7 separate regions of the Homo sapiens genome follow, and all the other regions are linked to region 1. Evidence: fine-mapped expression QTL. A gene starts in region 1. Each other region holds a variant in brackets. All regions are shown on one strand. Distances are from middle to middle.

Region 1 (4,000 bases):
CCTGTGGCAGAAGATGCACATCAGTGCTGGTTCCGGAGTGGTTCCATGGGCCCTTCTTCCTCACCTTCGGCCCCTGCTCTACCCCCAGTCTGGCTGTGAGTTGCTCTTGGCCCCAGGAGGTACTTCTGCAGAAACACCTGGGCTGGGAGAGGGAGCCAAGTGGGGGGCGGGGAGGAGTGGGTAAAGAAAGGGAAACCTGAGGCTTCCCAAACCCTCCAGAACCTGCCATCCTCCTTCTACCTAGAGTGGGAACTCAGGGTCTAGGGCCCAGGCTCAGGACAGAGTGATAGCAGAACAGCCGTCCCAGAAGGAGGATCCTGCCTTTCCCATGCTCAGCCCACCCCAGCCTGTTGCTCCCCAGCATTCTGGTAACTCAGTGTCATTGCCAACCATCTTTTTGCACCCTGAATGGAGTAATAGACTCCAAACAAGTCCTCCTTCTGAGGCCACCAGGTAAGTACATAGACACCCCCACGCTAATCTTCCTTTGAGAAAAAAGGCCCACTGCTCTGAAAAGCCAAGTGGCCCCACTGAGCAGCACTCAGAAGCCTCAATGCTCCAATGCCCCTTACTTGGGCAGCTTCTGTGGTCTACTAACAGCCCCACACAGCTCCCTCCCACTGGTCTCTCAGCTCAGGACCAGCATCTCCCCTCCTAGAGCCTCAGTCAAGTTCCCCTGGCGGGCGGAGGGCCTGGGTTAACTGGGAACAGACCCAGCAGCTCCGCTCCATGGGCGCTGCCAGGGACATTACAACATTGCTATGCTGGGTCCATGCCAGCTCCCCCAGGGATGGGAGGAGAGAGGGTGCCAGACGGCCAAGATCGGTGGGTGGGGGTGTGGGGCAAGCAGGGCCAAGCACCCAGATGGAGGGAGCAGAGCGAGGGTGGAGCTGGGGCAGGAGCACGCAATAGAATTTGGTTGCACGTTGGGGGTGATGGCTGGGCAGCAGGAACCAAGCGTTCCTTCCACCTCCAAGGCTTAACTGTGGTCATGGAGCTGGGGGGGACAGTGCCTTGTGGGGAGCAGGGGACAGGTGTGTGGTCAGCCTCCTGACTCCTCCCAGCTCCAAGGGGATTGGAGTGATGCCACTGGAGTCAGAGGGGTGGCAATCCTGTTCCAAGCGTGGAGCTCCGTCTCTGCGAGGACCCTCCCAGATTAGGACTCCCAAGCCAGAGCCAGAGGAGAATGTCTGGGAACGCAACTGGGGGATCCTAACAGCAAGGGTAATGCGGTGTCAATGATGCCAGGTCAGAGTGGAGTGAGAGGGGAGTAGCCAGGTTGACCGTTTCCTCACCCTTCATGAACCCCACTCTGGCCTTGAGGAAGGATCCTCAGTACTCCCTCAGGAAGCCACCTAGGGGCTGAGGAGCCCCACTACTCTTGCAAACCTTAATTCCTCTGTCCCCAAGCATACTGTCCCCGACCCCCACAACGCCGCCTGCTAACCCCGCGGGCTCACCTTCCCGTTGGCCGCAGTCTCTGCAGGTCTGCGCCCCCCGAGGCCTCGCAGTGGACCCGGGGCTCCTGGAGCTCGCACGGTGCCACCCGCGTCTTCTCCAGTCCGGGGACCCCGTTGCACCCGGCCCGGGTCCGTTCGGCGCCGAGAGTCCCTGGGATTCCGGGGTGGACCTGACGCTGGCGGCAGGGGCTGCTCCAGAGGTGGGGCGCCGGGAGATCCTGGGGGCCCGCGTCGAGATCGCCGTCGCCAAGCTGGGTCCCGGGTCCCGCCGCCCGCTGCTGTAGAGCCGCGGCTGGAGCGAACGCAGCCCGGCCCGCCCCCTCCGCGTCCCCTCCCAAGCCGGCCCGGCCCGCCCCTTCAGCCCCTTTGGCCGCCTTCCCACTCCCTTCTTCCGGGGAGCCGAGCCCGCCCTCCCGGCCTAGGCGGTGAGTGCGCGGCGCCCGCTCCTCCGCCCCGGCGCGCGGGGGAGACGCGGGGCGCGCCCGGGGCCCCGCCTGTGCGCCGGGAAGGGGGCGGCCTCCTCCCGCGGGTCTTGGCCGGGAGGATCGCACGCGTGGGGCGCCTGCAGGAAGTGGGAAGGGAAGAGGCTGTCTGTAAAGCCCCTGCCTGGGCTCGGGCTCGGGCTCGGCTTGGGTCGGACACCCGCGGAGCGAAGCGCAACTGGCGGACCGTGGCAGTTCAGGGCAGGGCAGAGCCCTGCACACACCCCCTCGCGCCTCCCTCCTCTTCGGCTTTAACTCTAGGAACTAAAACAGTGGGGCTCCTACTCAGCTTGGAACTAAGGTGGGCGTGAGCTGAGCAAGAGAGAAGGAAGGAAAAGCAGGGGGTGGAGGGAAAGACAAACTGAGAAATCTGGGAGAGTACGGGCGGTGGTAGGGGGAGCCGAGGCAGCGGGAGAGGGGGGCGTCTCGGTATGAAAGCGTCGCCGTGCTAGCCGGGAACTCTTTTCTCTTTTCGTGTCTGGATCTTGGTCAACGTTGGGGCTTCTGAGTCGAACCTCCCTCCATCTACCCTCCCCAAGGGGCAGGGCAGTCGGGTTGAAAAGGGGAAGCGCTGCTGTACGCCTGGCTCTGACATGGCTTGGGCAAGTCGCTGCACCTCTGGGTGCCTCCTCCCTCGCCCGCGCTCCGGAGAGAACCTCCCTGCAGTGAGGAGGGGCGGTGCAAGGTGCTCTCAGCTGGCGCCTGGAGGCAGGGTTGAGGAACCGAGGGGGCGCCGCGAGGAAAAGTGTTTCCGCCCACCTCTAACCCCTTCTCTAGCCGAGGACGGGGATTTGGGGTCTATTGTTTGGGTCCTACAGAGCTGGGCTGGGGCCTTGCCACGAAGTGTTGCTACCACCTGCTGGTTTTTCTAGGGAGCACAAGCACCCGGTGCGATTCCCTTTGCCCCCTTTTCTCCCTGTATCGCCCTGTCCCATCTTGCTCTCCTGTTTATTAAAGCAAATGGGCTGATCAAAACTGGTACTTAAAGAGCATTCAGAAGCCGAAGAAAATTGTGAAAGAGATCTATGAGCCAACAAACACAATAAACAAAACAATGAAACTCAGTAAGAGTCACCTGGGAGAGACAAACAGGCTTTAATGAATTGACTGAATGAGTGATAGAAAGATAAAGGCTACCGAGCAAGTTCCCACTTGGCCAGGGGTTTGTTCACTCTTAATATCAGGAGTCAATAAATAAGTCTGATAGTATTTAATGACTGCATTTGGACGTCATTAATAATTCCACTTGTACTGACGGTTCTACTTTATCTTGTTTCTTCCCTTTGCCCTGAAACTCAGTGGTGGAGGGCTTCCTTCATTTTCTGGTTATCTCCAAGGCTTTCAAAGACTTCTGCAAAGAAACAGAATTTGCATTGTGTGTGGAATTACGTAACTCATACATTAACATGCCTGATTGCTAGACATCTATGGTTATATTGAAAACTTAAAAAAAAGACACATAACTAGATTATGTTAAAATAAAAATATGGACAAAACCAAACCGTAGTTGTTACTTTATAAAACCCAGAAATTCCTGTAGTAATTTGCAACGTATCCTGTATTGACATAACAGTAAAAATATCTGCCTTCTTTTCTATTTCATGATATACCTCATATTAGGTGACTATAATATGAAATGAAGTTTTTGCTGCTCAAGGCTTGTGTAATTAGTTATATTTGTCTTGTTAATAAAATTTGAGAGGCATCTAGTTTTCAAAGGAAGTGTCATACTCAGGATGCAAAGAGGTTTAAATTTGTGATTAGTCGGCTTTGCATCCTAATTGCCTATGTCTTATCAAACCAAGTTTTAATGGTAGGTGGAGAGCATAGAATGCATTGTTAAAGTATGCTGCAACCTGCAGCTATTAAAAAGCAAAGTAATGAATTCCTTTTTAAAGTTTAATGTAAATTTTTTGCTATAATTTGTTTGGTGCCTGGGACACTCCAGGTGCTTAGAAGTGTTATAGAATGAATCAATAAAAAATAATATTTAAACTTTTTCTATGTGGATGGGCACAGTGGCTTATGCCTGTAATCCCAGCACTTTGGGAGGCTGAG
Region 2 (4,078 bases), 27 kb after region 1:
ATTGCTTTGTACATATTACTTGGCAACTTACTTTTTTCACTGAACAACATACCTTGGGGATATTTCCATGTTACCACATCTTGTTCTATTTTGTTCATTTTAACTGTTGTTAAAATGTATGTTATGGATATTTATCTGTCCAATTCTCTACTGATGGATATTTACATATTGCCTATACTTTGCCCTTTATAAGGCTATAACAGAAGTCCTGGCAAAATTTTCTGCCCACCTATGCATGTATTTTTATGGAATTGTTTCTGAGAAGTAAGTTGTTGAGTCAAATGTTATGTGCAGTTTTTGTTTTTTTTGTGTTTTTTTGTTTGTTTGTTTTTCGATACGGAGTCTTGCACTGTCGCCGGGCTGGAGTGCAGTGGCATGATCTCGTCTCACTGCAACCTCCACCTCACGGGTTCAAGCAATTCTCCTGCCTCAGCCTCCCGAGTAGCTGGGACGACAGGCACGTGCCACAATGCCCAGCTAATGTTTGTGTTTTTTTTTTAATAGAGACGGGGTTTCACCATGTTGGCCAGGATCGTCTCGATCTCTTGACCTTGTGATCCACCCGCCTTGGCCTCCTAAAATGCTGGGATTACAGGCGTGAGCCCCTGCGCCCGGCCATGTGGAGTTTCAATAAACACTGCCAAATTACCCTCCATAAAGACTGTTGCAGTTTACTTTCCAGCTGTGCATGAGAGCATGTTATTTCCCTACATGCTTGCCAACATCAGATACTATTGATTCTTTTAATTATGCCAATCTGATGGGTGAAATGGTGGGTTTTTAAAAACATTACATTCAACCGATCATTAGATCTAGCCTCTTTCTGTATGTATGTTGGCCTTCCTCAGTGCAGGTCTATCTTTTACGCATTTTCTCTTCTTTTCCTATTTCAGAGGAAAAAAGTTCCCCCTTCTTGATGTCCAATAATTAATCCACATGCCTCTTTGTTTCTCAAATATCTTCTTTCTTTAGCATCTTCAATTTTCCTGTCTTTATGTAGTTCTTCCTCTTGGCTTTCTATATAATCAGACTATAAATACGTTGGAATAAAAGACTGTATTCAACTCTACCATTCCCTTTAACCTCTCCCTTACTCGCTCTGCCCCTAAACTTGTCAAATGAGTGCTCTGAATCTGCTACTTTCTCCTCCTCTAGTCAACAACATCGGTGAAGTCATTCAGTCCTAATTTTACTGAATTTTTAAAGTTCTTTTAAATCCTGCTGCCACCTCTTTGTACCCACAGTCTCCTCTGAACTTCCAAGATACCATCCCATTTCTTGTCTTCCCTCTAGAACTACTTTCTTAATTTCTTAAGCTTACTTTTCCCCTCCTTTTACCTATAAGTGTGGATGTTCAACAGTTTTTATTTTTGGACCTTTGTTCCTTTTTCTTCACTTGTTGCTTTGGAGATCTCATCCATTCCAAACATTTCAACTATTTTCTCTCTGCGGATGACCCCTGAAGTCAGTATTTCTAGTCCTGGTGTCTCATTAAAAATCCAAATTTTCACTTGCACTTTTCTGATTGAATTGGACTCAATGTGACTTCAAGGTCAGAATGACAAATGACATTTAGTATCTTCCTCTCTCTCAAACTGAATTCTGTGATTTTATCAACTTTTTTTTTTTTTGTATGTAATGAGAAACAGAACATCTTACTTTCCAAGTAGTGAATTCTCCCTGGATAGAGACTAATTTTGTCTACTGAATACTTTGATGAGTCACTTTTGATGTAGGGGAATAGGTGAGAGGGCAACCTCAGGAAGGACTGAGCTTGTAGAGAAAGA[G/T]GTGGCTATGCAACTGCTTTCCAAGTGGTGCTGAGCTGCTGTTACACTTTTGTTTTGCTGGATACACTTTCAAGAGCTGAATTGTCTGGGGCTATAATGAGGATGGCAGTGGCTGTGGAAAGAAAGAGGAGGAAAAAGGTAGCTGGCAACCAGAATGGAAATTTGGCAAAAGAACAGACACGTTTAAGAGGGATTTTATGAGGCTCTGCCCTGCTCCACTGCATGCATGATATACTTGCTTACTTATCTCTCTGGAAAATCTTCAGCACAAAACCTTTTCTTACTGATTGATTGTGATTAATTGCAGTTAATTAGTTAAAATGTGGCATTAATTATTGACATTCTCTTGCTTAAATTTTCTCAGTGGTTTTCTGTTGTCCTAACACTGTATCAAAAATAATTCTTTCTTTTACAGCTTTATTAAAATGCACTTGACAAACAATAGACATCTTTAAAATGTACAATTTGGTAAGCTTTGACATACGCAAACACCTGGGAAACCATCATAAAACTTAATGTAATGAACTTACACATCACCTCCAAAAGTTTTGCTGTGGCCCGCTATTTATTTATTTATTTAAATTTCAACTTTTATTTTAGATACAGGGAGAACATGTGCAGATTTGTTACATGGGAATATTGCCTAATACTGAGGTTTGTACTGAGGTTTGAAGTACAGATCTTGTCACCCAGGTACAGAAGATAGTGCCTGATAGGTAGTTTTTCAAAACACTTCCCCTTGTCTCTCTCCCCCTTCTGGTAGTTCACAATGTCTATTGTTCCATTGTTTATATCCATGTATGCTCAATGTTTAGTTCCCACTTTTAAGTGATAACATGCGATATTTGGTTTTCCGTTCCTGGATTAATTTGCTTAGGATTATGGCCTCCAACTGCATCCATTTTGCTGCAAAGAACATAATTTCATTCTTTTTTTATGGCTGCGTACCATTCCATGGTGTATATGTACCACATTTTCTTGATCCAATCTACCATTGATGGGCACCTGGTTTGATTCCATGTCTTTGCTATTGTGAATAGCCTTGTGGCTTTTTATAATTCCATCCTTCTCTCCATGCTGTTCCCAGACAAACACTGATAGAGTGCTTCTTCTATTACTATAGATTTCTTTGTGTTTTCTAGAATTTAATATAATGCAATTATAAACTATGTACTCTTTTTTGTTTCTTTACTTTTATTCATCATATTATTTTGAGATTTATCTATGTTGTTTTAAATTTAAATAGTTCATTCTTTTTATTGCTAATTTTCCTTTGTGTGGATACATGACAATTTCAGCATTAGTTCGCCCATTAATAGGCAATTGGATTTTTTCCAAATTTTGACTATTACAAATAAAATTGTTATGAAAATTTGTGTCTTTGTGTGGACCTGTGCCTTTCTTTCTTTCTTTTTTTTTTTTTTAGACAGAGTCTCTGTCTGTCACCCAGGCTGGAGTGTAATGGCACAGTCTCGGCTCACCACAACCTCCATCACCTGGGTTCAAGCAATTCTCCTGCCTCAGCCTCCCGAGCAGCTGGGACCACAGGCATGTGCCACCACGCTCGGCCAATTTTGTATTTTTACTAGAGATGGGGTCTCTCCATGTTGGACAGGCTGGTCTTGTATTCCCTGCCTCCAGTGATCCTCCCGCCTTGGCCTCCCAAAGTGCTGGGATTACAGGCGTGAGCCACTGCACCCAGCAAACATTTCATTCCTTTAGTGTTATCTTTTCACCATCTAGTTTTAAATGTTGATGAAATTCAGCTTTTTTCTTTTATGCTTCATGCTTTTTGTGTTTTATTTAAGAATCACTAATAAGCCCAACATTACTGAGATTTTCTCTCATGTCTTCTTCTAGAACCTTTATAGTTTTAGCAAATCTGTTTAAATGTATAATCCATTTTGAGTGAGTATGTGTTGCTGGTATAAGGCAAGGTTGAGGTTTATTATTGTTATTTTGCATATGGTTAGCTAATTGCTCCAGAACCACTTACTGAAAAACTATTCTTTCCCCAGTGAACTGCCTTTTCAGCTTTGTTGAAAGTCAGTTGTCCAAATATGTGTGGATCTACTTTTGGATTCTCTATTCTGCTCAAAATTTTTTGACATAAAGTTGTTTATAATATTCCTTTAACATTCTTTTAATACCTGTAGATTTTGTAGCAGTACCTTCTCTCTCATTCCTAATATGAGTAATTTATATTTTCTCTCTTTTTTCCTGATTAGTCTGCTAGCACCCTATCGATTTTATTGATCTTCTCAAATAACAAACTTTTGGTTACTTTGGTT
Region 3 (4,078 bases), 43 kb after region 1:
CTATTATGAATCCTTACTATTATGAATTCGTGGCTTGACTGTGTTTTTTGTGGCTCGTGATCCCTTCAGCCCCTACCTTCCACCCCATGCCATTGTAAATCTCCCAATCTTTGCTGCAGACATAGGGAGTCAAAAAAAAAAAAAAAAAAAAAAAAAAAAAAAAGCCAACATATGTAAGAGTGCCTGCCTGCAGTGCACCAGGCAAAATGCATCTTTCAACAATTTTTAGATATTGTCATCATTATTTTCACTTTATAGATAAGAAAATTGAGAATCAGGGTTTGCTTGAGAGTTCCCAAGCCAGCAAGAAGCAGAGCTGTGAAATGAACCCAAATCCATATGATTCCAAGTCTCTGTGATGTTTCCTATTACTCATATTGCATTTAGAGGATAAATTAGATCTAGTTGGCCCATTAGAGACACATGGAGCAGATTCCAACTTTGATCAGTTCAGGAGTTAATTATGCCTGTCCAGGTCTCAAAATCTGTCTGCCAGGGATGAAGATTATGCAGGCGATCCCTTTGGCTGTCATAGAAGCTTCCTGCCCTCAGAACTGAGCATTTCTGCTTTGATTACCCCAAAATACCTGAATCTCTTGAGCCCTATCCTTTCATCTCCCAGGTAACATGTCTAGCTCTAGTTTCCAATTTCAGATAAACTAAAATCTTTTTTCATCCTTCTATCAGTATCACAGTTTCTCTGAAGCTTTCCCAGGCTTCTGATGTCTCCCGGGGGAGCTGGAGAGTTACCTTTAGTTTACAGGTAAATAATGAGTCATTAAATATATTTACATACCAGGATGTCAGCAGGAATGCAAAGAAGATAACAAGTGCAGAGTATAGCTGGTTCCCAGGGAGGCTGGGGGTGATTCACCACACTCTTAAAAGAAGACTAGCCTCATTTCCTCCCCAGCTCATGGGGTAGGATTCCTCTGCTCTGGCAGCAGATCTCCCAGAGGGAGCAGCCTGACCACATCACTGGCCCAGAAGAGGAGGCGTCTGTCCCCCAGACTAGCTGAAGGAAAGGCTGGCTTGGATGATGCTCTGCTCTCTCCTTGCCCTTCTCCTGGGCACTTTCTTTGGTGGGTGCCCTCCTCTCTGGCAAGCCTCTTTTCTCATCCTCACCCTCACCCCAATCCCGTGAATGCAGAGTCTGAGCTGTTGGTTTGACACTCTTGAGTCTATTCCTGATTGTCTGGAACAGATATGGGAATTTAGCCTTAGGGGCTGATCTGATGATTCTTAGTTCTCTCTATCTCCTGAGAAGGAGTTCGTTCTGTTGGTCTTCCCTGGCCCAGGGATGCTTTGCATCCTTGGCTCCCCCAGTCTACTCCCCATGATGGATTCCAGGTGCCTGTGTCATGCAAGAGCTTGAGCTGCCCCTCTGTCTGGGGAAGGCAAGCCAGGCTGGGGTGCTCCTCTGTAAATGGCACTTTATCTTTCCCACAGGGGTCAGATCTCAGACTATTCATCAATGGCCAGCGACCCTGGTGCAGCCTGTGGGCAGCCCGCTCTCTCTGGAGTGCACTGTGGAGGGAACATCAAACCCCAACCTATACTGGTAC[C/T]GACAGGCTGCAGGCAGGGGCCTCCAGCTGCTCTTCTACTCCGTTGGTATTGGCCAGATCAGCTCTGAGGTGCCCCAGAATCTCTCAGCCTCCAGACCCCAGGACCGGCAGTTCATCCTGAGTTCTAAGAAGCTCCTTCTCAGTGACTCTGGCTTCTATCTCTGTGCCTGGAGTGTCACACTGAGCTGGGTGGGGCAGACATCTGTGCAAAAACCCCACCCTCTCCTGAGCCCTAACCATACTCCCCAGGGGCCTTCACTTAGGGACTGGGTGGAGGATATTTGTAAGTAGGTTTCTGACTGCTGGCCAATGTGAAAGCAATGGAATAAAGCGAGAATTCTACAAAAGACTCTACTAAGTTCTCAGGGAGAACAAAAAATTGTATGTGTGCAGAACCTGTGATTTGCCTGCACATAGTCAAGTTCTCAATGTATGGATGTCCCGGCCCAGGCTACCATACTCCAGCCCTCAAGGTGTGCTATACCTTGCCTGATTTTCTAGTCTTCCAAATTCTTCTATGTGTGCCGTGGGGAGGGGGTTTGTGCATATATGGCTGAGAGAAAGGATATACCTGTGGCAGGAGGTGAGCTGGTGAACAAACGGGAGGATGCCAACCCAGGTTACTTAATTGGTTAATTTCATCACCTGGAGAGTCTCCTGTCATTGATCTTTCTGCTGAGACTAGAAATTATGGGGAGGCTTAGACCTGAGGCTTTGAGTCAGGCAAAGAGGCAAGATGTTCAGGAGACTGTTCTCATTCGAGGCAGAAGTGTGGTTTTGTTAGTATAGGTAACATGCACTTAGGCCAGACGTGGTAGCTCATGCCTGTAATCCCAGCACTTTGGGAGGCTGAGGCAGGAGGATCACCTGAGGTCAGGAGTTTGAGACCAGCCTGGCCAATATGGTGAAACCTGTCTCTACTAAAAGTACAAAAATTAACCGGGCGTGGTGGCAGGCGTCTGTAATACTAGCTACTTGGGAGGCTGAGGCAAGAGAATCACTTGAACCTGGGAGGTGGAGGTTGCAGTGAGCCAAGATCATGCCACTGCACTCTAGCCTGGGTGACAGAGCGAGACTCTGTCTCAAAAAAAAAAAAAATAAAAATAAGCTTGCACTTAGAAATTTTGGTGATGTTTGAGGTTTTAAAAAATGTCCTGTTGTACTATCTTGTAGCCCTTCCTTTGTAGCAAAGACAGACAGATGGTGATCCAAGAGATACGCAAGAAGAGGACCGTGTGTGTAATGGTTGAGCTCTAAAAAAGAGAAATCACTTGGATGGAAATGAAGGAGAGGAAAAGGCTGATGTGGATGGCTGGGAAGAGGTTCGATGGTTACCTTGGCAACTGAGCTTCCTTCCTCATCCCCATCCCTCCCTAGTCCTTGTTCTTAAAAAGATTTTCTTTCTAATGTCCCTTCCCCTCCACAAGGGGGCACAAGATGTCTTAAAATACTCCATTCCGGGCATCATTTAACCTAGATCAATCCAGACACGTGCATATTTCTAGTATCATTTAATCTGAAGTGGAAAATCTGAGATGTAGACACAGAGTGATCAAGAACATATGGAATAATGCCCAGGGGTCCCTACTGAACTTTAAGGATCACCTATGTATTAAGCAGCTATTATTTGCTGGACACAGTGAGTCATTTTGAGGATTAAAAAGAAAAATAAAATGTACTCGAGATGGTGTTGGGCACAGTCATAGCATGATTTAGTCAAAGCACTTGATTTTTGTAGTCTAAAAATTTGCTAGTTGTTATGAACTTGACCTAGTTATTTAATTTTACTAAGTTTCAAGTTTTTCCCCACCTATAAAACTTGCCTCATTGAATTGTTATGTGTATTAAATGAGATGGTGTTTATAAAGCCCTATTACAAGCTCTAATTTTCAACAGGTATTATTTTCCGCTCCTTAAGCTTACAAGATTATTTTCATTACAACTTACCCAAGAGGAAGACTTAGTTAAAAAATTTCAAATCATAAACTACAAGTATGTAATAAATATTAATATTTAAAATGCTAAACATGCTTGGATGGCAAAACCATGAAACTTGAACCCTATGCTGTGCCTATTCAGATGCTGATTCTGTAGGGGCTTTATACAGCTTCAGAATCCTCATTAATAGAGAAATGTCTCAGGCAATCACCACTAGTCAAGTAGAATTAGTAGAGACTTGAGGCAGATTTTTCCTTCCTGTAATATACTGCAAAAATTCTGGAAAACTTCACAAAGGACATAAAATTGTAGCTAAGTTTAGCTCTTTAGGAGGCTAATAGTTATATAAGCAAAATGACATTGCAAGCAGGAGAGTCAGTTTGTGTAGAAATGTGCAGGTCTATGTGAATATTGTAAGTTTTAGAGAATCTGAAGAAAAAAAGTCCTGATCATTGCACAGAGCATCCTAGAGACAGGTGAGCATTGAAGGAGAGGCTTGAAAGCCACCTAAATTCAGCAGAACAAATTAACATCCTCCATGTTATCTGCTCTTATTCATGCAAGACTGTTCATTC
Region 4 (4,078 bases), 73 kb before region 1:
TGAGAGAACTGGGGACAGAGGGAGACCCTGATGATGGCTGTCTCTGGGCCAGGTCAGACTGCACTGCACATCGCTGTTGTGAACCAGAATGTGAACCTGGTGCGTGCCCTGCTCACCCGCAGGGCCAGTGTCTCTGCCAGAGCCACAGGCACTGCCTTCCGCCATAGTCCCCGCAACCTCATCTACTTTGGTGAGAGCAGGGTTGGGCTTGAAGGATGGTTGGCTGGAGAGGCGGGCAAGGCAGAGGGAGGCCAGGGCATGAGGGTCCTGCCTTCAGCTCCATCTGTTGGGCAGTTGAGAGGGGCAGCCCTTCTAGGGCTTAATTAAGCCAGAGGCCCATTCCCCTGATGGTTCCTTCCTCTGGTTCTGCTGGACGAGTGTCCCTCAGCCTAGAACTGAGATATGGGGGATGAGGAGGAGGCCCTTATTTGGGGGAGACTGCCCACCCCATCCTGCCATCCTGCGTTCTCCTGCCATGGATCTCTCTGTGTCCACAGGGGAGCACCCTTTGTCCTTTGCTGCCTGTGTGAACAGCGAGGAGATCGTGCGGCTGCTCATTGAGCATGGAGCTGACATCAGGGCCCAGGACTCCCTGGGTAAGAGCTGGGATGGGGAGGGGAGCTGGGATGCTGTGGGGAGCGAGGGACAGGGTAAGGAGTGGAGCTGGGACCTTTAGGAAGACCCCAGAGTGGGGATGGGGACATCAGGGACTTTAGGCCAGTGGCCACATGATACCCTGCGTCCTCCCCAGGAAACACAGTATTACACATCCTCATCCTCCAGCCCAACAAAACCTTTGCCTGCCAGATGTACAACCTGCTGCTGTCCTATGATGGACATGGGGACCACCTGCAGCCCCTGGACCTTGTGCCCAATCACCAGGGTCTCACCCCCTTCAAGCTGGCTGGAGTGGAGGGTAACACTGTGGTAAGAGACGCTCCCCATCCCTGAGGTGTCTTTCTAATGACCCTCAACCTATCCTGCTGGCCCTGGGAGAAATAGAGGTGAAGGGCCCACCTTTCTCTAAAATCCCTTTTCCCCAAACTCCCCAAAGGGATGGTGGTCCCTTGCTTCCTATTCCATCACTGAAATCTTCAGCTTCATGGTCCTTGACTCAAGAGGATTTGAGAACCTTACCTTAATGCATGTGCTGTGATAACCCAAAGCTCTAGCTTCCTTTGCCTATTTTCTTCTTTCTGCACTTTCTGGGGTTTTGGAGCAGGAAAGATGACAAAAAAGGGAAAGCTTGTAGATGCAGAGGTTTGCTGGTTCCCACTGTCTGTCTGTCTCAAGGGGTGGGCAACTGGCTCCATCCAATGGAGTTGTTCTCCTCGACCACCTTCTCACACGTTGGCCCCCTGACTCATCCTGGTGGTCTCTCAGATGTTCCAGCACCTGATGCAGAAGCGGAGGCACATCCAGTGGACGTATGGACCCCTGACCTCCATTCTCTACGACCTCACGGAGATCGACTCCTGGGGAGAGGAGCTGTCCTTCCTGGAGCTTGTGGTCTCCTCTGATAAACGAGAGGTATGGATGCCAAGGAGGATCAGGCCTGTCATGTGAGGGAATTTAGTGTTTGTGCAGAGTCTGTCCACTTACTAAGATCCTGGGCCTGAGACACTTCCCAGCCTTATAATAGGTGGAGATGAGAATAGTCTCCTGGGACATGGGGGAA[AG/G]TCCAATGCACACTCCTCTCCTGAATCCCCTGTCTCTCTGCTTAGCTCCAGTCCCTTCTGCCTACCTTTCGCCTTCTATCATTTCAGATGAGAAACTCCAAATAAGAGCTGTTTCCTCATATTCATTCATTGGTTCAGCATTGATATGGTTTGCATTTGTGTCCAAATGCAAAAATTTCATGTCAAATTGTAATCCACAGTGTTGGAGAAGGGGCCTGGTGGGAGGTGATTGGATCATGGGGACAGACTTCCCTCTTGATGTTCTCGTGATAGTGAGTTTTCACAAGATCCGGTTGTTTAAAAGTGTGTGGCACCTCCCCCTGCTCTCTCTTCCTCCTGCTCTCTCTTCCTCCTGCTCCGGCCATGTAGGATGTGCCTGCTTTCTTCTTGGCCTTTTGCCATGATTGTACGTTTCCTCAGGCCTCTCCAGAACCTGTACAGCCTGCAGAACCATGAGCCAATTAAACCTTTTTATTTATAAATTACCCTGTGCCAGGTAGTTCTTTATAGTAATATGAGAATGGACTAATACAAGCATATTGAACACCCGCTGTATGTCAGGCACTGCACAAGAAACAAACAGTACAGAAATAAATACAACACAGTTCCTGTTCATCAACTTCCTCAATTCTCAGTCCCTGTCCTGAATAATTGCAACAGAGCATGACATATGCCGTAATAGTTGTGTGTACCATGCATGCAGACAGCCACATTGAGGTAGAGTTAACTTGGCTTGGATAGACCAGAGAAGATGTCACAGAGGAAATGCTGGGGCTGGATCTTCAAGGAAGAATTGGGAGTCACAGGAAGATGAGAGAAAAAAAAGAGCTTTTTAGAGAGGGAGCAACGTATAGACCATTCAACAATGCTGGGTTGAGTGATGTGAGGGAAACGAAAATTTGTTGAAGACTGCAGTAGAGAGGAGAAAAGACTTCCAGGTTTCAGAACGTTCCATGAGAGTGCCAAGATGTAGTTTCTGTTTTGTATCTGCCACAGTGACAATTTCCCAGGAATCCTTATAGATCCAGAAAACATGAATGATTATTAATACTAACGAATAGAAGAAAAGTTGAGTGGCTAGTTTGTGAGATCTTCCTCAGAGAATATCCCTGGAAACAGATACACTTTGAGCAGGATTTCTTAGGTATTAAAAGCACAATCCCACTGTGTGGATTTCGCCACCACATATCCTTGGTCTTTGATTTAAGCTATTCTCAATATTCTCCAGCAGGTTTCATAAGTGTCTTGGGTCAGTTGCTTTTTTCCTCCATAAATCTTCCTTTCTAGCCCCCTTTCACATCCTTCACTACCTTCAGCTGCAGTTCAGAAGACCTAGACTCCTGATTTAGGACAAAAATAGAGGCTTTCTGGCTGGGGATCCTTCAGCTTCCTGCCCTACACTGCCGAGCATGTCTGGAAACTGCCCACTGTCTCTCTCCTCCCCTCCAGCTTCAGTAGAAAAGATATTCATGCTGTTAATGGCTAATCACTCTACTGTGCTTTGAATCTGTCTCTTTCTAATTTCTCAGATGCCTCCTCCCGTCCATCATCCCCTCTCCTGTGTATCTTTAACGTCTCACTGGCTGCTTATTTCAGAGCACCATCCCACCCTGCCACATCCTACTGCCTGTAACCTCCATTGCTTCTTTCCAGCCCAATAATACTTCTAGAGCAAATCTGACCACTTCCCTGCTTGAACTCCCCAGTTGCTTTCTGTTATATTTAGAAAAAACAAAAAATGCAAACTTCCTACCTTGGCATTTATGATGCATGATGACCTGGCCCTGTTCTTCCTCAGTCATTATCATTTCTGACTACCACTCCCAATAGATTCTCCCCTCTCCCCAACCACATCTCAACTGCAAATGGGCAATGGCTTCTCAGACCTTCCTGACCTGGCAACTGCTGTTAGCTTATGGTATGATCTTTCCTAACTCTCCCTTTACTCATCTAACTACTACTCATCCTTTAAATCCTCTTTGGTGCTATGGTGCCTTGTGTTTACTGCTATAGTCATTTACCTGTATCACTAGCACAAGGCCCAGCCATATGCAGGAAATATACTATTTGTCCGTCAAATAAGTGACTGATGAGCTGAGTGAGTGATGGTTGCTGCCCTGCCTCTTCTGGCCCCCAGTGGGATAAACAACATCCTTCTGTGTTGGTCACCCCAAGTTTCACTCTACTTCCATGCCAGGCTCGCCAAATTCTGGAACAGACCCCAGTGAAGGAGCTGGTGAGCTTCAAGTGGAACAAGTATGGCCGGCCGTACTTCTGCATCCTGGCTGCCTTGTACCTGCTCTACATGATCTGCTTTACTACGTGCTGCGTCTACCGCCCCCTTAAGTTTCGTGGTGGCAACCGCACTCATTCTCGAGACATCACCATCCTCCAGCAAA
Region 5 (4,078 bases), 38 kb after region 1:
GTCCTGTACTTTCAGCCTCTGTACCTTTGGTCATTTCTGTACCATTCATCCTTTCTTGCCTTTTAATGTCATTTTTATCAGTCTAAAACCCTATGACTTCTCAAGGACCATCTCAGAGTCTGTCTCTTATGTGAAAGTTAAACTGAGCCTCATACCTGAAAGTAATCTCTTTCATAAACAAACTTTTTTGAGCTTATCCTGCTTGGGTTTTGCTAAGCTTCCTGGATCTGTAGGTGGATATTATTTATCATGTATGAAACATTTTGGCCACTATTTTAAAAATAATTGTTTTCTGCCACCACTTTCTCTCCTCTATGTTGAAGACTCCAATGATATGTGTGCTAGGTGGCTTGATATTGTTTGGGAGTTCCCTGAGACCTCTTCCAGTTTTTGTAGTTGTTTAGCTTTATTTTCCTCTCTCTTGTTTTGACAGTTTCTGTTGTCCTGATTTCCTGTTCATAGACATTTCTCCTATAGTGTCTACTCCAACTTAAGCTTATCTAGCAAAATTTTCATTTCAGATATTTTTCAGATCTAGAAGTTCTATTTAGCTTTTTTATAGTTTCTGTTTCATTCTTCATTATGTTGTGTTTCACTATAAATCCTTGAACATATTTAATAATAGCCATTTTAGTATATTAGCCATTTATAAGTCCCATTATTTTAATTTACCATCTCTGCCATTTCTGGGTTGATTTCAATTGCCTAATATTACTACTTAGCATAGACACATTTTCCAGCTTTTAAGTATATCCCATAATTTCTGACTGGATGCTCAACATTATGAATGTTACTTTTTTATTATCTGAATTTTGTTTTCTTCTCTCAAAGAGTGTTGAGCTTTATTCTAGTGGGCAGTTGACTTGCTTGCAGGTCAACTTGTCTGCTTTTCCTTTCAAGGGCTCTTTTAAGCTTTGTTAGGGTTAATGGACGGTAGACTTATTCTATGCCATTTGAGTCCTACTCTAAGTTATGGGCTTCCTGGGATACCTGTTCAATGTTCCAGGTATTCAACAAAGCTATTCTGATGGCTCAGAGCTGTATCTCTCTCAGCCTCGACCAAGATCTAGTAATTATTCATACTGTAGTTCACCAGCAGTTGTTAATTCTCCAGTACTTATTCTTTGCCTGCCCCTGTGGAGTTTCACCCAATGGATGCCAGCTTAGTATTTACCCAAAGACTCAATGAGACCTCATGAAAATTGCGGGGCTCTTTCCGTGCATGGCCTCCTCTTCTCTGAGCTGTGTCCTCAGCTCAGTAAGAATTTCAGGGTGCCATGCTCTGCTTGGGTCCCTCTTGTTTGTACAGTAACCCAGGAAATTCTGGGTAGAAAACGGAAATGATCACAGCACGCACCTCATTTGTCTCCTTTCACTTATGGATCACAGTTTTGTGCCATCTCTTGTCCAATATTAGAAAACAATTATCTCACGTATATTGCCCAGTTTTCTAGGTGTTTATTATTGGAGGGTATAATGGATTGAATTATACCCACCATCCCCCCAGAAAAAGATATGTTGACATCCCAACCCTCAGTACCTCAGAATGTGACTCTGTTTGAAAATAGGGTCATTGCAAGTGTGACTAGTTAAGATGAGGTCATACTGGAGCACTGTGGACTCCTAATATGACTGATGTACTTGTAAGAAGACAGCCGTGGGAAGACAGAAACACACAGGGAAAATGCCATGTAATGCCAAAGGCAGAGTTTAAAGTTATGTAGCTGCAAGTTAAGGAATGTCAAAATTTGCCAGCAAATCAACAGAAGCTAGGAATAGGCAAGGAAGAATTTCCTTCCAGGTTTCAGAGGAAGCATAGCTCTGTTGATACCTTGATTTTAGACTTCTAGGCTCCAGAACCATGAGACAATAAATTCTGTTGTTTTAAGTCACCCAGTTTGTGGTACTTTATTACAGCAGCTCAAGGA[G/A]AATTACAAAGTGGATGGATTGAGTACAAGTTCCTTCATCGTAAGTGGAAGCAGAAGTTCCTAACTCTTTTAGTATTTGTCATCTGAACTACTTTTCTATCTTTTACCTCCTCCAATAGATAAGTTATTAGAAGGCAAATATTGCTTCTTGATTTTTTGTTTTCCGTCTATCTAAGCTTGAATTTTATGTGCACGTAAGGTAGATGTGAAATTCATGGGCATCAAATATGGGTGGGTAAAATATAATTTTGTTTTCTATAATTAAAATTATTCTATATCTAGATCCTTGTTGCATTGGGGTACACATGATTAATTCAGGGGTTTCTCAGACAATTCATGCTTGTCTCCCTTTCCTTTTCTCCCCGGGTAGTGTCTAAATTCCAGGGTGCTTATAAAAGCGCTTGTCAAAGCATTGTGGGGAAGGTACTTGGTCTTTGGTCATCATTTAACTTTCCTTCATGACTCTCATTTGCACCATCATCAGCACCTGTCCCCACTGATATCTGCTGATCCTCGGTGTGTCTGTCTGTCTGTCCTTCAGGTTGTTTTGATCCACGGCGGGTACACTGTGCCTTACACATTTCAAACACGATGTCTCTTCAGGCTTGATGGCTTCTCTCAGTTAATCTGTTTCCCTGTGAATGAGAAAATGGCTATTCCTGATCTATCCTGAGATCTTTGGGGATTCTTGGAGACTACCTCAGGTCCCTCTGTTAAGACACATTCTAGAGCCATGTATGTTTTCCACTGCTGCTCTAATAAATTACTACAGACTTAGTGGCTTAAAACAACACAAACTTATTATCTTACAGTTCTGTAACTCTGAAGTCTGACACAGGTTTCACCGAGTTAAAATCAAGCTGTCAGCTAGGCTGCATTCTTCCCTGAGGGCTCTAGAAGAGAACCCATTTCCTTACCTTTCCTAGCTTCTAGAGGCCACCTTCATTCCTTAGCTCATGCCCCCTTCTACCTCCAGGGCCAGCAGCATGGCATCTCTCTTGCCTGCTTCCATGTCCACATCTCTTTCTTTGACTCTCTTCTGCTTCCTTCTTCCATGTTGAAGATGCTTGTGATTGTATGGGGCACACCTGATTAATTCTGACTACTCTCCCTGTTCTAAGGGCATCCAATTAGAAACCTTAATTCCATCTTCAACCTTAATTCCCCTTTGCCATGTAATCTAACACATGCACAGATTCTGGGGATTAGAATGTGGACATCCTTGGGAGCCATTATTCTGCTGACCACAAGTCATTTCTACTTACCAGTCTCTAGCCAGTATGACATGTAGGGACCCAGGACCTTGTTCGTCTCATTCTGGAAATAAGCACAATTTTCCTCTGCCGTCAAAACTTTTGAATTTCCATTTCTTCTCTCTCCACCTCTCTCTCATCCCTTTCCTTGATCAGGATGTGGATAAGAAGAGGTAAGTCACAATTCAGGGCATTCAGGAGCATCTAATTGGCTGACTCTCCCTTCTTTCCATTAGCCCAGGTAATTTTTAACTCTTCTGTAGAGGAACAAATAGGCTTTGCAAGTATCTTCCATTCCTATTATATAGGAATATATACCAGTTTTAAAATTAAAAAGACGAGTTAGTTCTTATTGCCATTCTCTTCATGTATAAAGCTTTCTCTTGTTGGCAGCAATTCATTAAGAATCTAGTATGGAGGGAAAAAGCTGAAGATGGTAACAAAAAGACTTGAAAAGAGGCTTGCCAGAGAGGTGGACACGTTAAGATGACCAGGACATGTTAAGATGACAGTTCCAGCCAGCTTTCAATTCCGTAGGGCACCTCCAGACCCAGGCCAGATGTGCGGCCAGGACTCTCCCATTAGTAGATCTACTGCCACAGAGCAGAGGGATCATATCCCCATCCTCTTTTCAATACATGAATGACTTAAATGATTGAATAACTAAACAGTATTGCAGATGGGGATGGAGATTGAGGAGATTTTTTTAAAGGCATCAGCCATATGGAAGGAGCTTCCAGCTACTGAGCTGTGACAATGATCAGGAGCCAGGAGCCAGCTGGTTACTCTGATCTGACTGATACATCTCTTCACCCTCCAATCTGCTGCAGCATCTCTAAGAAGGAGGATTACATTGCTGTCTACATGTGGTAATGACACTGAGCTGATGCAGCTGAT
Region 6 (4,078 bases), 33 kb before region 1:
GTCTGCAGGTGTGTGTGTGTCTGCAGGTGTGTGTGTGTGCATGCACTAACTGTCATGGGCTCCTTTGCAGGCTTTATGAGTTGGCGCACGGCTGGTGAACCCAGTGACTGGAACAAACTCCAAGCTGAGTGAGTAAGCAATGCTTTTGACCTCACTACCCCTTGCTGGTTCCATCCCTCATGAGCAGAGAGCAAGGACACGCCCTCCAAGAGGCCAGGGGACACTGCCACAGGCCACACACTGACACTTGACATACCACAACACATATACCACACACACTATACAAATACACCAATACACCCCCAAAATACCACACACACTATAGAAATACACCAATACACCCCCAAAATACCACACACACTATAGAAATACACCAGTACACCCCCAAAATACCACACACATGCAATGCATGTACACACACACTACACACACACACACACACACCCCTCACCACAGAGACTAAGAGCAAGGGAGCAGAGATACTATTGCACAGTGACAGAGGCAGTAAGACAGGAAAAACTGAGCGAAACATAGAAAGACATAGGACAAATAAAAAGTGACAAAGCCAGAAAAAAACTATACATATACTTTTCTGGCTCTAAATCAGTGGTTCTCAATGGAGAATGATTTTGCCAATGTCAGCGTGTAAAGACATTCATGAGCAGCGTGTAAAGACATTCCTTGGTGGTCACAATGGAGGGGAGGGACATGCTACTGTCACCCAGTGAGTGGAGGCTCGGATGCTGCTAAACTTCCTACAATGCCTAGGACAGCCCTTGCAGAAAAGAATTATTTGTTCCGAAATATCAATAGTGCCGGGGTCGAGAAATTGTGCCCCAAATGCGGAAACATCGGGGGCACAGGAGCTCTTTGGAGCTCCTGTGCCTCCAGCTCAGGACTGTGTAACTGTGACCTCTCTGCCCCTCTCAGGGGCCGTCAGAGGAGGCTCTGACACTCTGCCCTGGGGCCCCCAGGGAAGCCTGAGGACCTCACTTTCACTTAGCATTTGAGGCTCAGCCCCAGGCAGGGAGGACTGGTTTAACCACCTGGTCCCCAGGTTGCCTGCTCCAGTCCTGTCCTCCCTCCCTCTTGGCTCCTGACCCCTTCGGTTCTCTTCAGGGCTTGGTCAGAGGCCACCACGAGGGCAGAAAAGAGGTCAGGCCATGCACTCATCATTATGGATAAAATCATTGAGAGGAAGAGCGACTCACTCAGAAGTCACACAAGTCTTATTATTTTTGGAGCCTGGGAAAGGGAACCGGGAGAGGCCAGCCCCGTGAGTGCTCTCCCAGGATCTCCAGTCTCCCCCTCACCACCTTCACCCCAAAACTCACAGCCTCCTGGGCATGCCCACTCCTTGACTGTGGGTTACAGAACCGATTCCTCCCATGTCAGGAGGTGCTGCCCTGGGGTGGAGTGGCACAGAGGGGGCTGTGCTAGTCTCAAGGGAGAAGGAGGTCCACGGCATCCTTCCTGTCCCCTGGAAACAAGCAATATGGGATGCAGGTTTAAGATGTGAGACTGAGGCTGGACGCGGTGGCTCACACCTGTAATCCCAGCACTTTGGGAGGCCGAGGCAGGCGGACCACAAGGTCAGGAGATCGAGACCATCCTGGCTAACATGGTGAAACCCCGTCTCTACTAAAAATACAAAAAATTAGCTGGGCATGGTGGCAGGCGCCTGTAGTCCCAGCTACCCGGGAGGCTGAGGCAGGAGAATGGCGTGAACCCAGGAGGCAGAGCTTGCAGTGAGCCGAGATCACGCCACTGCACTCTAGCCCGGATGACAGAGCAAGACTCCATCTCAAAAAAAAAAAAAAA[T/AT]GCGAGACTGAAAGTGATTGGTGGGGGTGCTTTCAGGAGCTTCTGGGGGTAGTGCCACCTACCCTAGGGCCACCTTCCCTTACTGATACGATGTTAGGTCCAAAGACCAAGAGAACATTGCAGCCAGAAGCTTATATCCTGCAAACTTGTCCTCCCCTCCCATCTGGACACCCCAATTTTGAGTCTGTTGGCTGATCCATGCACAACACCAGGTGGAGGAGGCTGAGGAAGAGGAAGAGCATTGGAAAACAACTTTGTCCTCCTCCTATCCTCCTCCCTCCCTAAGTCTCCCTCCCAAAGCCTCCCTCCCCCAGCCTCTCTCCCCAGCGTAACGAAGGCCTCATTGCTTTCTCTCCTTCCCCACCAGACACTAAACTGGGGTCTTTGAAGCTAAATAGGTCTTTGAAGCGACAAACCACTGGCTTAATGGGCACAAAGGTCTTGGGGTTCAAGGTTTGGGTTCTAGCACCTTCCCCCAACCCAGCCCGAACCCACTGACCCAGGTGGGTGGGGACGAAGCTAATCCAATTGAACTGTTTGCTCAGGACTGCGTGGCCTGGCCTCTGCCCAGCGGCAGGAACACAAATAGCTTTCCACTTGAAGGGGTCCTTCTCTCCCCTGCCCTACCTCAGCATCCACCTCCCTCCACACACCGACTCCCCCCACACACAGCACATATGACACACACCCCATGACATACATACACACACAACACACACCATACATACACACATAGTAAACCCACCATACACTACACAAATCATGTATACACCACACACACACACACACATCATGTACACGCACACATACCTTAAAGGTACCATATACATCACCCACTACACACCATACACACAACACACATGCAACAATCTTTCCACAATACGTATATACACAACACACATGTCACACATACCATCACAGACACCACATCCACACGCTCTACAGGCCATACCTACACATATCACATATATCATACACACGTAGACACATACCAAACACACCACAGGCACATCATATACATACAGCATACCACACACAAAACACCCCACCGATGCACATCATGAACACACGCATAAACACCACACACAAATGCACATGGGCACACACGCCATACACACGCCACACACACACTCCCCTGGCTGGGTCTTCCAACTCTGAGTCAGAGAAAGTTAGGACAAAACAGACTCTGAAGCTAGGAAGTGATCCACACACCTGTGACTCTGAACACCCAGACACCTGCCCCTAGGCTATTGGCACCTGGCTGGCACCAGGAGGTTGGATAAGCCCGGGCTTCTGCCCCTTTCCAGTGGAAAAGTTGAACTAAATGACCTTTCCGACAGCTTCCAGCAAGCTCATGATGGAGCTCTTTGTTGTGGGAAGACGATGGGCCATGCTTAATGCCATCATTCTTCTGTATGACTGTGCGAGTCACTTAACCTCTCTGAAGCTCTGTTGGCCAGTTAGAATGAGGAGGTGTGCTAGGGAGAAAGAAGTGGGCTTGGAATGAGGGATGGGTGTGAATCTTGCCTCTGCCACCTCTATGGCCTTGGGAGAGTTCCTTTACCATGGTGAGCTTTGGTTTCTCCCATCAATACAATGTAGATAATAATACCTGCCTTGCAGGTTTGTTACGAGTTTACCTGGGAACGCTCAGTTAAAAGGCCCAGCACACAGTAGCAGCTGAATGTCACCTCCACGGGAAGGCTGGCAGATAGAATACTTGCAAAACGTGGGGTATATTTATACTAAAAAATTCTTTGTTGTTTATCTAAAATTCAAATTTGACCACGTGTCCTGTATTTTATCGGGCACCCACCCCATGCACGGGGCATTGTGGACAGTCTGTGGAGCTCCTGAGCAGGGGGTCTGCCCAGAGCTAGATTTTGTGCCCTGGCTGGTGAGCGAAGAATGCATTTTACATCTTTGGGGGTGGTTAGAAAACAACCACCAAAACAAAACCAAAGAATAACGTACATTAGAGAGTGTACATGGCTTGCAAAACCTAACATCTTTACATTTCCTATCAGCCCTTCCAGAAAAAGTTTGCTGACCCAAAGGTGATGGGGACTGAGAGGAAAGTCTGGGAGAACTGAGTATCTTCGCAATTTATATACCTATTTCAGGCCTGGCAAGAATGAAACTGGAAGAGTCCAGAAAATGGAATTCTCCAGGACATAAGCAGGGGGAGGCAGAGAGTGAGGCAGGTGGTCGGCAGAAGAGGCACTGTGGGAAAGTGGGGCGCTCCCTCCTGGGAGTC
Region 7 (4,078 bases), 54 kb before region 1:
GTCCTCATAAATGGGAAGTTTAGAGAATTAAACTAACTTTAGAGGTATCTGGCCAGAATGCAGATCCACATCTTATACATTACATCCATTCCTCTGTTCGGCTCTCTTTTGACCTCTCTTCTAAGGCAAGCTCTCCCATCGTGTTTGTGAGATCATTTCTAGAAGCTCCAAACTCCAAAAAGAATGAGGATGTGCAATGCAACACGCAGCTCCGAGGGCCCCACTCACGTTGTATTCTGTGAGGCTCCTGGTGCCAGGCAAAACTGCAGGCTTTAAAAGAACATCTTTCCCCCTGCCAATTCCTTCCATGTTCCATCTCATGGGAACACATTCGGGTCATAGGCACATCGTTGAATCTAAGGAAAGACCAAGGACTAGATAGTGGAGGTGTTGGTGATGGTGGTGGAGGGGAGGTTTGGGGGAAAATAGATTAATTAAGCACAACTGTGTGAAGCCCAGTCCACTCAAACCAATGCACTAAAAGTGATGAGGGAGCAATTCCCTAAATGAAAAATGGGTGCTGTTACCCGAGGAAGGACGGGGCTGCATGATGGCTCAGGAGGAACAATAAACATTTCTTTCAAGGCAAAGAAGAACAGCTATCCAGGGTAAGAGCACAGAATGACTGGAAGTCCTGAGCTAGGAGGGAACTTGGTGCAATTAAGAAACTGAAAGAAGTGTGGAGTAATGAGGAAGATAGGGAGTAGAAAAACATGAGGTGAAGAATTTGCTATTTTGAAGATTGCACTCCTTCAATTAGGAAGCCTTCCTGGTTCTGATCTATTCTGATTGCACCCTTTTGTCCATGCTCTAATAGATCATGGTTTCTTTGAAACTAGAATAGTCCCCAGTATGATTAGGGCAATGCGGTACAAAGCGGGACTATGCCTTTCCTTACTTGGACATAATGCTAAGGGTACCTAAAGCTGAGTCAGGTCTTTTAGCAAATATACAAATGGCCCTTATTAAGCTTGTGATCAGCTAGCACTCCCACACCTTTGTTCTATGACTCACTTATCTAAGCTTCCTAAATGTAAATATAGGACCTTAGATTTGGTTTACTTAAATTTCTTGTTAATGATTTTACACCAGCATTCCAATCTAGCGAGATAATTTTATATTGCTTCTGTTGCCCCACATATTACATATCCCTCCCAGTTTTGTGTCACAGGCATATTTGATAAGCTTGTTTCCCATGTTTCATCTAAGTAATTAATGAGGGCTGAGCAAAGGACAGAACGTGTGGTGGACTTGCTACCAGAAATTTCCCTGCCAACTTGCAGTCATTAATCAACCCTTTTCCTTCCTAAGATGTGGATATTTAATTTGCTGAAAATTCCCTGAACAGTAACAGTATCAATTCATCCCCAAGATCGTAGAGATTCTCTTTAATCATTTTATTTAAATCGAGATAATTGGTCTGTGGCTTTTATATGAAAAAGAAGTTGAGATTAGTTTGGAGTGACTCATTCTCCATGAGTGAATAGTAATGTAAGGGCAACTATTTTATTCAAAACACTCACAAAAAATCCTCTCTCATTTCTTGATGAGTGAAGCTGGTTGCATGGTGCCTGGCACAGGCTGTGGGGTGAATAGGTGGCTGTTCTCACCACTGACCTCTAGTGTCCTATCTCACAGATTGCCTTTGGTTCCCTTTATCAGTGGCCTCAGTGCCTCTTTGAACCTCATGGCTCTTTCAGAGTTCTTCCTGTATCTCCTGCCTCCTTCCAGGTCGTGGCCACCACAGTGATGCTGGAGCGGAAGCTGCCTCGCTGCCTGTGGCCTCGCTCCGGGATCTGTGGGTGCGAATTCGGGCTGGGGGACCGCTGGTTCCTGCGGTGAGTGATGGTGTGCACATGCAAAACTGCAGATGTGTATAAGGCCACGGAAGCAAGGGTGACCGACAGGCGTCCTGGAGCCTACATTAGCCTGTCTAGGGGAGGGGGCTGGAGCTGAAGTGGAGGGGTACGAAGAATGCTGTGTGTACCTCAGGGCAGCCACGTGTAAAAGGTTGTGTGCATGTGTCCATGCTCAGACGTCAGCATGGGTTACCAGACTTGCTGTAACCTTGTTCTGAGCTGACCTTCATCTCCAGTGTACTTTTGGCTTGGATCTAACTTCCTCCTTCATATTCTGCCCTCATCTCCCGGCGTGACTCTCCTCTCTCCTCAAATTTACTTCCTGAATTGCATCTCGTCATCCTTGTGACACGCTTATCTATTAGTTGGCTCTGTTTTCTCTTTCACATTCCTACGTATTAGTAACACACAAACACACACACACCTGTGTGCGTCCTACCACCCTGCAAGCCCTGATTGCTCAGCCTCCATTATCTCTATCCCAGGTTAGCCTGCCCTCCATCACCTCCCTTCACTTGATCCCAGATACTCTTCCTGTTTCAACTCTGCTGCCTTATTTCTGCTTCCCTCTTGACCCTGCTTTCTAAATGGTCACCTCTACTTCTCCCCTGCCCATGTCTCCC[C/G]ACCTGGATTGAGTCCTTTCCCCTTTCCCCTTATCAGGGTTGAGAACCACAATGATCAGAATCCTCTGCGAGTGCTTCGCTATGTGGAAGTGTTCAAGAACTCAGACAAGGAGGATGACCAGGAGCATCCATCTGAGAAACAGCCCTCTGGGGCTGAGAGTGGGACTCTAGCCAGAGCCTCTTTGGCTCTTCCAACTTCCTCCCTGTCCCGGACCGCGTCCCAGAGCAGCAGTCACCGAGGCTGGGAGATCCTTCGTCAAAACACCCTGGGGCACTTGAATCTTGGACTGAACCTTAGTGAGGGGGATGGAGAGGAGGTCTACCATTTTTGATTAACATCGCTATCACTCTTGACCTTACTCCCGGTTGGCCTGGGGGCGGGGACAGAGACGGAGACCTCTGCCTATGCAAGTGTCTAACTTCTGTGCCTGTTAATCATGGGAGGGTGAGACAGAACAATCCCTAAAGGGTCATGCCTCACACTTCACATCAGAATTTCTGGCAATGGGCAATGGTCATCGATTGTCTCACGTATTTTCTGGGCTCTTGCAAGTCACCCATCTCAGGAAAAAGGAGGTTGGCAACTAAAGACATGAGGCAGGGATGCTAGATTAATGTCAGGACCATTTCTCTTCTGCCCCACGCAGCCCCTAGAAAGTAGTAAGCTGTGAGGCTTTTCTGGCTCCCCAGGGCTTACGTGGGAAGAGCCAGGCATGGCATAGAGGTTGTGGCCCTTCTTTTTTTCCCAGCCTCCTGTAGGTCTCTCTCTCCACTTAGCAAGCAAACACCAACTGCAATAAAAAAGTCTCCTTATTCTTGCCTTCTTTAATTTTTTACTGTGGCACAATACATGTCACATAAAATTTACCATATTATCCATTTTCAGATGTGCCATTCAGTGGCATTAAGTACATTCACATTGTTGTGTAACCATCACCATTATTCATTTATGGAACTTTTTCATCATTCGGAACTGAAACTCTAATCCCCATTGAACAATAACTCTCCAGCTATCTCTCTGCCCTGGTCCCTGATAACCAATATTCTGCTTTCTGTCTATGAATTTAACTATTCTAGGTATCTTATGTAAGTGGGATTCTGCAATCTTAGTCCAAAATTTGACACAGTTTGTTTATTTATTCATCTACCAATGGACATTTGAGTTTTTTCTACCTTTTGGCCGTTGTGAATAATGCTGCTATCAATATGGTATACAAATATCTGTTCTAGTTTCTATTTTCAGATACTTTGGGCATACACCTAAAAATGGAATTGCTAGACAATTCTTATGTTTAGTTTTATGAGGAACTGCCATACTGGTTTTCACAATAGCTTTCACCATTTTACATTCCCTTCTAATGGGTGTGAAGTGGCTTCACATTGTAGTTTTGATTTGCCTTTCCCTAATGACTAATGATACTGAGCACGTTTTTATACACCTATTTATTGGATGTTTATATACCTTCTTTGGAGAAATGTCTTTTCAGTTTATTTGTCCATTTTCGAATTAGGTTTTTGTTGTTGTTGAATTGCCTTATCTTTGCTTTTTGAGGCTCACAGTCTGAAGTGTTTGCATCCTGGTGTGTTTTTAAGAAT

Alleles and levels. Positions count from the first base shown, and alleles are read on the strand shown. Sizes are in standard deviations (SD) of each study's normalised expression. Not every link is listed here.
For the expression in skin of the gene that starts at base 1,770 in region 1, allele AT in region 6 goes with a lower level than allele T (moderate effect, 0.44 SD a copy in TwinsUK).

Evidence for each region. PIP is the estimated chance that this variant, and not a neighbour inherited with it, causes the effect.
Region 2: its variant is fine-mapped to the expression of EPHB6 in blood mononuclear cells (TOPMed, PIP above 0.99).
Region 3: its variant is fine-mapped to the expression of EPHB6 in whole blood (TOPMed, PIP 0.94).
Region 4: its variant is fine-mapped to the expression of EPHB6 in whole blood (INTERVAL, PIP 0.95).
Region 5: its variant is fine-mapped to the expression of EPHB6 in whole blood (TOPMed, PIP above 0.99).
Region 6: its variant is fine-mapped to the expression of EPHB6 in skin (TwinsUK, PIP 0.93).
Region 7: its variant is fine-mapped to the expression of EPHB6 in whole blood (INTERVAL, PIP 0.98).

Annotation. Positions count from the first base shown.
Region 1 is chr7:142,852,846-142,856,845 of GRCh38, reverse strand. EPHB6 (EPH receptor B6) reads right to left here and starts at 1,770. Exons shown (of 20, transcript NM_004445.6): 1 at 1,461-1,770.
Region 2 is chr7:142,826,003-142,830,080 of GRCh38, reverse strand. No RefSeq gene overlaps it. Among named protein-coding and RNA genes, the nearest start is that of EPHB6, 27 kb to the left of the region's middle. The variant G/T (reference allele first, on the strand shown) is at 1,788.
Region 3 is chr7:142,810,249-142,814,326 of GRCh38, reverse strand. It overlaps LOC105375541 (a long non-coding RNA gene), which reads right to left and starts at 130. Exons shown (of 2, transcript XR_001745392.2): 1 at 1-130. It also overlaps TRB and TRBV30. The variant C/T (reference allele first, on the strand shown) is at 1,566.
Region 4 is chr7:142,925,540-142,929,617 of GRCh38, reverse strand. TRPV5 (transient receptor potential cation channel subfamily V member 5) reads left to right here. Exons shown (of 15, transcript NM_019841.7): 4 at 53-190; 5 at 498-596; 6 at 752-927; 7 at 1,384-1,530; 8 at 3,877-4,078. Among named protein-coding and RNA genes, the nearest start is that of TRPV5, 6.2 kb to the left of the region's middle. The variant AG/G (reference allele first, on the strand shown) is at 1,679.
Region 5 is chr7:142,815,241-142,819,318 of GRCh38, reverse strand. LOC105375541 (a long non-coding RNA gene) reads right to left here. Exons shown (of 2, transcript XR_001745392.2): 1 at 3,194-4,078; 2 at 1,883-2,563. Among named protein-coding and RNA genes, the nearest start is that of EPHB6, 38 kb to the left of the region's middle. The variant G/A (reference allele first, on the strand shown) is at 1,929.
Region 6 is chr7:142,886,075-142,890,152 of GRCh38, reverse strand. No RefSeq gene overlaps it. Among named protein-coding and RNA genes, the nearest start is that of TRPV6, 2.4 kb to the right of the region's middle. The variant T/AT (reference allele first, on the strand shown) is at 1,822.
Region 7 is chr7:142,907,250-142,911,327 of GRCh38, reverse strand. It overlaps TRPV5 (transient receptor potential cation channel subfamily V member 5), which reads left to right. Exons shown (of 15, transcript NM_019841.7): 14 at 1,732-1,838; 15 at 2,520-3,227. The coding sequence ends at 2,814. Among named protein-coding and RNA genes, the nearest start is that of TRPV6, 24 kb to the right of the region's middle. The variant C/G (reference allele first, on the strand shown) is at 2,483.